2 separate regions of the Homo sapiens genome follow, and region 1 is linked to region 2. Evidence: fine-mapped expression QTL. A gene starts in region 2. The other region holds a variant in brackets. All regions are shown on one strand. Distances are between the middles of the regions.

The links. PIP is the estimated chance that this variant, and not a neighbour inherited with it, causes the effect.
Region 1: its variant is the best candidate, but not a certain one, in a credible set for the expression of RGS7 in spinal cord (GTEx, PIP 0.63).

Annotation. Positions count from the first base shown.
Region 1 is chr1:241,457,391-241,461,783 of GRCh38, forward strand. No RefSeq gene overlaps it. Among named protein-coding and RNA genes, the nearest start is that of FH, 60 kb to the right of the region's middle. The variant A/G (reference allele first, on the strand shown) is at 1,883.
Region 2 is chr1:241,355,513-241,359,905 of GRCh38, forward strand. RGS7 (regulator of G protein signaling 7) reads right to left here and starts at 1,693. Exons shown (of 19, transcript NM_001364886.1): 1 at 1,387-1,693; 2 at 187-314. The coding sequence starts at 264. LOC124904601 (a long non-coding RNA gene) reads left to right here and starts at 1,740. Exons shown (of 2, transcript XR_007067052.1): 1 at 1,740-1,970; 2 at 2,311-4,393. RefSeq lists a silencer at 1,545-1,594.

The sequences.
Region 1 (4,393 bases), 100 kb after region 2:
CCAACTGTCACACAAAGTTCATCCTAACTTTACCTAGGCATGGGGCTGACCACCTGTATTAGCTAATTGGCTTTATCCAAAGGAAGAAACCAACTTCTCATGTCTTATATTGGGAGGCAGTTTTGCAACTTGGAGCAAGATACTCACTGAAGTCAGACTTCTACCCTGACACAGAAACTGGGAGATGGGGGTGCTAAGTCCTTTGATGTTTACATTTCAAAGAGATGGCTGCCAGGTCCTTGGGAAAGACATTCCAGGATAACAAAGCTGAGGAAAGTCCTACCTAATCTTCAAAAGGATTTAAATACATTTCAAAGGGAGAAGAAAATACTTACAACTAGAAGTTTTCTAAGGTAAATGCTTAAAGAAAAAGGAAGAGAGGAAAATCTCTTTTCTTATTTTCAAGAGGAATAATTAAGCCTTTTAATTTTAGTTTGTACATAGTAAGTCCTCAATTAATGTAGTGGATAGGTTCTTGGAAACTGACTTTAAGCAAAATGATAATGAAACCAATTTTACCATAGGCTAATTAATATAAAAAAAGAGTTAAGTTTCTGTGACTTTTCTGGTCACAAAAACATTACCAAACCTCTAACAAAAGACTGAAAATACTTCTAATATTAAACCTTGAAATAAATGAGAGCTACACATACATTTAAGAAAGATCAATAAAAACAGGTAAGATAATTATTTACCCAATTTCTGGAATCAGTGAGTGAAGGCAACCATAGGTAGTTTCAATCAAGGAATAAATGTTTTCACAGCTGAAATCATAAGGAGCACCCCCAGTCACCACGTGGCTTAAAAAACCAACAATCACATATGGCGGCTCACTGAGTGCTTTATTGCTGCATCCTTTATTGTTGTGCCTTTGTATGATTATTGTATACTTTACACATTTTTCTTTGGCAATGACTTATGTTTACTCATTTACTCATTTTCCAACCCATTCATTCCAGTTCAGGGTCATGGGTGGCTGTGAAGCCCATCCCAGCAGCTCAGGACTCAAGGCCAGAACCAGCTCAGGACAGGACACCATCCCATTGCAGGGTACAGTCACACACACACACCCACTCTCACTCACACTGGGACCACATAAACACACCGTTCCACTCCACGATGTGAGAGGAAATGCGAGTATCCAGAGCAAACCCATACAGACAAGCGGAGAATGTGTAAACTCCACAGAGAGTGGCCCCAGATGGGAATCTATTTTTTTCTTCCAATGTTAAAATGAAACAAAGTTATGCTAGGAGCCGCTGCATTTTCATGAAAAGGTTCTGTTGTAGAGGCTGGAGGGGTCATGAGAAACCTGTGTGAGCTGGAGTTACGTGGTAACACAAACAACGAATAAGCAGAAACTATAAGGTAGATAGAAGACACCTATCTCAAGATCCATATAAAGATCTATAATTGAGAGAGTGCTAATAGAGATGCATGAGAAGCAGGCATGTGCCAAGCCACTGAGACTATCTGAGCAAATTCACCACTTTGCTGTTGCAGTTGCCTTCAACACGGAACCACCGCTTTCCAGGCTTGGCTGTCCAGATACCCCTGAGCTCCCCTGTGTATATATTATCACAACAACCACCACTCCTTCCTCCATATACATGCAATTACTTGAAGGAGCATGAGGTAGGTCTTCATTTCATGGCTAAAAAAGCACTTGCTTAAAACATGATGGAAACAGTTTTTCCTGAAGGGCTTTCTGGAAAACCTGGGATGCTACTGCGCTGAACACACTGTCATCCAGATAAAAGTGACTCTTCCTGGGGAGCCTTGAAATCCAGAACATGGGAAGGTCATTCTGTGGATTCAGGATCACTCTGACAATACTAAAAAGGGCCTACACAGTGTTATATGCATGCAAATAAATGTCCTC[A/G]GGTGCAGGAAGGACATTTATACTAGCTCTGGTTTGTGAAAGGCAATCTTTGATTGTCTTAAACAAAGGGTTTTTTTGTGTTGTTGTTTTTTGTTTTGTAAGATTCTTGGAATCTGCAACTCTAAGCAAAATGACATGTGATGACCTTGGCTATATGTTGTTGGTAAGACCTCCTTGGTAAGAATTTAATAGAATTAGCCTTTGTGCAAGGTATTCATCTGTTCGTCTGTTGCTTTGCTTATTTGTTCAACCAACCAACAATTTCCAGGCCATGCAGGGTTCTATGCTGAGAACACAACAGCTGATAAGCTAGACCAGGGCCCTGCTGTTGAGGCACTTATATCCCACTGGGAGACAGAAAACAAGCAGAGGCATATAAAGACAATATATCAGCTGCAAAGTTCAGGGGGAAATAAAGCAAGGGAGGGTGGATACTATCTCAGACACTGTTCAGGGAGATCACATATTATCTTGTGTTCATTATCACTTAGGCCAGCAGTATGAGCTAAAACGTGGCAAATAACATTTTTTCCAAGGGTCAGAAAGAAAGAAAGCACTGTAGATGACTGGAGTTGGTTTCTCTAAAGAAGTAAATATGAAAATTTCCTTTCTGGGCTACAGAGGTGTGGCAGCTTTTAAGAACCTTTTCTCTAGCTTCCCTCAGAGATCACTTAAAGAAGCTAAATGAGGTATCTAGTCTTTGTCATTCCTATTAAAGATCCTTCATCACCGAAGGACCCCTGACACATCTTTCAAAAGTGATCCAGTCATAATGCCCTACAGGAGGGCAGTGCTGCCAAATGGGGAGAGCATCAGTCTAGCCACCCAGAGACCCCAGTCCTATTCCAGATTGATGCCAGATACTTATTTTTATCCTTATATGATGTGTCTGGTCCACCTGAAGTCTCAGTATCAGTCTCAAGTAGATGAGATCAGGGAGTTCAATGCTGTGCTTTGTGTGAACTTCAATACAGTGAATGCAAAACCACTTCTGGGGTTGTAATGCAGCTGATTTCATGCATGCCTGCTTCATACATGTCTGCTTAACAAGTAAGATCAAATCAAATCAAATTATTTAGTAACAGCACTGACTTCCTTGTCCTTGATAGGCTTCTCTTTGAAGCAAACAAAGTGGAAGAAATGGTGATATGATTTCTGTTGTAAACTGTCTCGTACTCTATTTGGTGAAAGTGAACTGCTTTTTATAAAATAAATGGCTAGGGTTGGGGAGTTTCGATATAACTCTTAAAGGTAAAGGTTTTGCGTCCCTGGAATGAAACGCTCAATAAAGCTATTACTCCCCTTGGTGGCTTTCCAGAGTCCTGTACCTTTGGGATTCACTTTCCCTTTTCTGTGTTTGCACAGTAGTCCCTGGAGGACTCTTGCTGAGGACACTTAGTGATAAGACATTACTTGTTCAGGCTCATATTCCCTTCTGGGAGAAACACTATACCAGGCTTCCAACTCCATCTCATCCCACACACGGAGACTTCACCATCCTGGCAACCTTACTGTGCTACCTTTGACCACAAAACAGGTAAGCACTCAGGGCCAGACATAATAAATCTTGTATGGTGAGGATATCTACGATGTCTGGCACAATCACATTGTTTGAATTTATAAATGATTAGAGCAGCAGTTTGTATTGTTCATATTAAAGTGAACTCACAGAATCATTGGAAGTTAGCAAAAAATAAAACAAACCCCAAGTAAAGTGATAAATATTAAATTTTGGAGTGTCCAGACACCAAATGTGAGTACAGTCAAATGCAAACTCTAGTAAAGAAAATAGGCTGGGCATGGTGGCTCACAACTGTAATCCCAACACTTTGGAGGCTGAGGCAGGAAGATAACCTGAGATCAGGAGTTCAAGACCAGCCTGGGCAAAGTGGTGAAACTCTGTCTCTACTAAAAATACAAAAATTAACTGAGCATGGTGGCAGGCACTGGTAATCCCAGCTACTCAGGAGGCTGAGGCAGGAGAATCTCTTGAACCCGGGAGGTGGAGGTTGCAGTGAGCCAAGATCTCACCATTGCACTCCAGCATGTATGACAAGAGTGAAACTCTGTCTCAAAAAAAAAAAAAAAAAAAGAAAGAAAGAAAGAAAGAAAAAGAGAAAAGAAAATACATCTAAGTTGAATTGTTCAAAACAGGCAGCCCTCTATGGCACCAAGTGAGCCGGGGGTGGTAAAAATTGTCCAATAAGAGCAGATGTTCTCTGTCAAGAAAAATTGAGATTAAAGAGGATTTGGACCTGATTCATCCAAACAATTACAATAGCTAGAGCACTCATTTCTCATACTCTTTCTTAGTCCATTTTCTACTGCTATAACAGAATACCACAGACTGAGTAATTAAAAAAAAAGTGTATTTGGCTCACAGTTCTGGAGGCTAGAAGTCCAAGAGCATGATGCTGACATCTGTCAAGTGTCATCCTATACCAGAAGAATGGAAGGAAGAAGCAAGCTTGCAAGACTTGCAAGAGAGAGAAAATTGGGCCAACTCACCCA
Region 2 (4,393 bases):
AGTGTGTTTCCCCACATATGCATCATTTGAGAATGTCAGATCACTTTCACGTATATAGTACATAATCACTGATGATCTGGGAAATCCACAAGGCCACAAAGTTGATACATACTCTGATCTAGAGGGGGAAAAAAATCGAGAAAGCCGGAAGTTTCCCGTTTTCCAAGAAACTGAAGACATTCTTACCTTTCTGTACACCAGCATGTTGGGTGATTCATCGGCCACCCCGTTGCTGGTCTGCCCATAATTATTCCCCTGGGCCATGTCACCCAAAACTTGGTCCACTCTCAAGATACAAGAATTATCAGTGTGCCCTGCAAAGGGTCAGAGAGACTTCAGTGAGATCCCAGTGGGACTCCCCTGATTCATCATCATCATTCACAGCACCCACCCCACATGGCGCGTTCTTACAAACTGGGGCTGGCTGGAGAAAGTGACACAGGACATGGATTTTTTAAAAAGTGAGTTGACACCTACAATAACCTCAAGGAATTGTAAGAAATTACAATCTTCCAGGTAGAAATAGCCATTTGGTTATTGTTTTAGCTGACTTCATTTTCTGGATACTCATTTTGAGAAGTGTTTGATGCTCACCCTAAAAACTCGTGGGTAGCATTTTCCTAGTACAGAGTTCTCTTCTCTCCCAATACTTGCATCTGAACTTGGTGATGTTTTCCCCAAAGGGTGGAAAGGCAACACCTGGGGGATGCGGTGGGGGAGTGGGGGGCGGGTTAGCACACTTTCTCCTAGGTATCTGTCTAGTGTCCCCACCTGCAGCCCATCAGAGAGGCCCATTCCCGGTGTCATTCTCCAGCGCACGGGCTTCCTCTCTATTCCCCCGGGTCTCCCACACAGAGCCGGAGTATATGCTTCGCCTACTTTCACCTGCCTGCGCTGCCAGCCACCGGCTGCTCTCCTTTCTCCCCACTTCGCTTCGGAAGTCCGGAGGTAATCCTGCCTAATTTTTGCAAGAAGACACCAGAATATGTCCCGGCAACAAGAACTAGTGGGAGGTCAAGCCTTCAGGCCATTTTACCCGGGTCACCGTGGGTAAAAGCCTAACTGCAGAAGCCTCCAGAGCAACCAGCCAAAGAGGAGAAAACAGGCAAGCCCCTGCTCCCCTTGCTCGCTCTCACGGCAGCAGCAAATGGCAGGCGAGCCTGTGCCCCGCGCCGCGGCGGCCGCCGGAGCCGGGCAGCAGTTTCAGCACCGTGGACCGCGGGGTGCGCGCGGCGCCCGTAGCCCAGCCCCGGCGCGGGGCTCCCGGGGGCGGCCGCCCTGCGCCCGCGGACGCTCCCGCTGCGCAGAGCGAGGGCTGGGTGCGGGCCGGGGGCCGGGAGGGCTCTGGGTGGCGCTGCCTCCTCCCCGCCCGCCTTCCCTATTTACCTCCTCCGCCAAGGTCACGGCCCCGCGGCGTCTCCCCTCCCGGGCGGGCTGGGTGCAGGCGGTGTCAGCTGGCGGCAAGCGGAGCAGCGAGGCAGGGTAGCTTCATCACACTCGCGGCGGATGCGGATTCCGCGCCGCCCCGGCTCTAGCTGCTCAGGCGACCGCCACCCTCGCCTCGCCGCCGCCCGTGCACAGGCGGCTCCGGCAGCCGCCACTCGCGCCCGCTCCCCTGGGCCGCCTCGCTGGCTCTCTCCCTCCTCCGCTTCTTCTCCCGGGGACTGGGACCAGCCGAGCGCGCGCGGGAGTCGAGACGCCCGGCCCGTGCGCGCGACTGGGAGGAGGGAGGAGGGGACAGTCACGTGGGACAGGGGCGTCCGAAGGTGCCGGCTCGGATGGGCTCGGCTCGGCCGCCGCCACACCGCCCGGGCCTCCCGGGCCTCCCCGGCCTCCCGCCCTCGCGCCCCTCGGGAGGCTGTAGTCCTGCCCCCGGCGCGGCCAGCCCGCGCTCCCGCACACCCCGCCCGCTCGCCCGCGCGTGTGTACGTGCGCCGGAGGCCTGGAGAGACCGGAGTTTAACGCCCAGTGTAAGCCGGAAAGGGAGGAAGGCTGTGCGATGGGTGGGTGGGTGGTAGGTGGGTGGGTGGTCTAGTGAATGGATGGACAGATGGACGGACGGATGCACGGATGAATGGATGGATGGAGCCCCGTGCAAACCAAGGTTTCATCACGTGCCTAACGACTCCGCTGAAAGTCCCAGGGAAGCAGATGATTTATTATTATTATTATTATTATTATTATTATTATTATTATTATTATTATTATGCTTAAATAACAGAGTAGAGAGATATTGAGACACCCTAGGAATGAAGGAAATGGCCAGGACCAAATGAATCATTCATCCCCGTTTGCCTGCGGTTTTCACAGCTTCTTCCTAAGTTGGAGAAATGGGAAACGATTTGAAAGCTGCCAACCGGAGGTGAAAATCTTGCCACTTGTGAAACTGAAGGAACATCCCCAAGGCCTGGCTTCTCCTTTTAACAGAAGGTGCTCAGAGGAACTTTCCTCTTGCCCACTGCCCTCATCCTCTAGCAATTTTCAAAGAGCTTCTGAGGTGCTGATCCTCCTAGCTATAGTCTTCGTACTGCTGCCACAAATTCTTCTGTAAGGATTAGAATGACATAAAGGAGACAGATCACTTTTGTCTCGGTGGTAGTAAAGCAACCTGTGCCTCTGGCTTTCAGGGGGAAGGGCTGGGCCGCTGTAAATCTAGTTTTCCTTCCTCTCCTGGGCCAGCTGTGGAGGAGAGGGAGGGAGAGAAGGAGAAGATAATCAAGATCAGCTGTAAATCTAGTTTTCCTTCCTCTACTGGGCCAGGTGTGGAGGAGAGGGAGGGACAGAAGGAGAAGATAATCAAGGTCAGCCTTTCCTGACCCCTTGGTCTAAGCAGACTAGACCTTATTGGAGATAACACTTCTACTCAAACAGGGGTCCATGTGGACCAATGTATTACCCCAGCCCCATGCAGGTCTTGTCAGGTTTCTCTCAAGGAACAAATATTTATCTAACCTAGCCCCTGTTCCAAGTACTACAGGAGAAATATCATTGTCCCAAACTACACACACTCTAGTCTGACCTGTCTCCCACTCCAACTCCCCACATCTTTCCACTGTAGCCTCTGGAACTTAGAATCTTCTTCAGCAAAATTCTCTTCGTTTTCGACTTCTCGAAATATTTCTTTAACGTTTTTGCTCTCGCTGAAATCTACTTATCCCTCCTTTAACCCCTCTCTCTTCCCTCTTGTTCAGTCTGCTCCTGAGAAGTTGATGTGACTTGCATGACTTGGATTAATAAATTTGCAAATACAACTGGGTATGCTCACTCAGTTTGACCATTTTCCTCTTAAGAGAGAACCGCCTGAAGGAAGCAGTCTTCCTCCTCCTTTGCATCTCTGGGTAAAGTTTCCATCCTCATAGGAAGCTGTACCCAAGCTCTATATATAGAGAGCCTATATATATATATAGCTCTATTTATCATATATATAATTGGCTCTATTTAATTTATATATATAAATTATACACACACATAAACATACATATATATAATATCTCTTGACACCCTTTCCACTTATTGCCACCCTATTTTCCTTCTTCCCTTTATGCCAAAATCTTTCCATTCCATGTTGAACCTGTTCCACTTTGGCAAATGACCTCCATGGTGCTAAGCTGATGGTCAATTCTCAATTGTCATATGAATTGACTTTTCAGCATAAATTAACCCGGACACCACTCTCTATTATTTCTCTTTCTGCATTACTGGCTGCTTTTTCTCACTCTCATTGCTTGTTCCTCTTTGTCTTTTTGACCCCCAAATTCTGAAGCATCTTGGATCTTAGTCATTAAGCCTCTTCTCCTCTCAATTTACATGCACTGTACCTAAAGTGACCCAATTCAGGCTCATACATTTTAGTATTTCATTATTAAACACTAATAACTTCCAAGTGTATATTTTTAACCAGGATCTATCCCCTGAAATCCAGTCTGTCAAATGCTCACTTTACATCTCCACTTGAATATCTAATTATGCCTGATTCAGCTTGAAGATAGCAAGGATATTGTCACTGCCTCAGATCCTAGGCATAGTATAGTTGCTGGTGCATAGTAGATGCACAATAAACATACATTAATGAAATGAATGGATGTATCTAGTAACAGTAATCTGATAGGTTCTTTTGTATTTTGCAATTGTATTTTTTTTTGAGATGAAGTCTTGCTCTGTCACCCAGGCTGGAGGGCAGTGGTGCAGTCTCTGCTCACTGCAACCTCTGCCTCCCAGGTTCAAGTGATTCTCCTGCCTCAGCCTCCTGAATAGCTGGGATTACAGGCACGTGCCACCATGCCTGGCCAATTTTTGTATTTTTAGTAGAGATGTTGGCCAGGCTGGTCTCGAACTCGTGATCCCAGGTCATTCGCCCACCTTGGCCTCCCAAAATGCTGGGATTACAGGCATG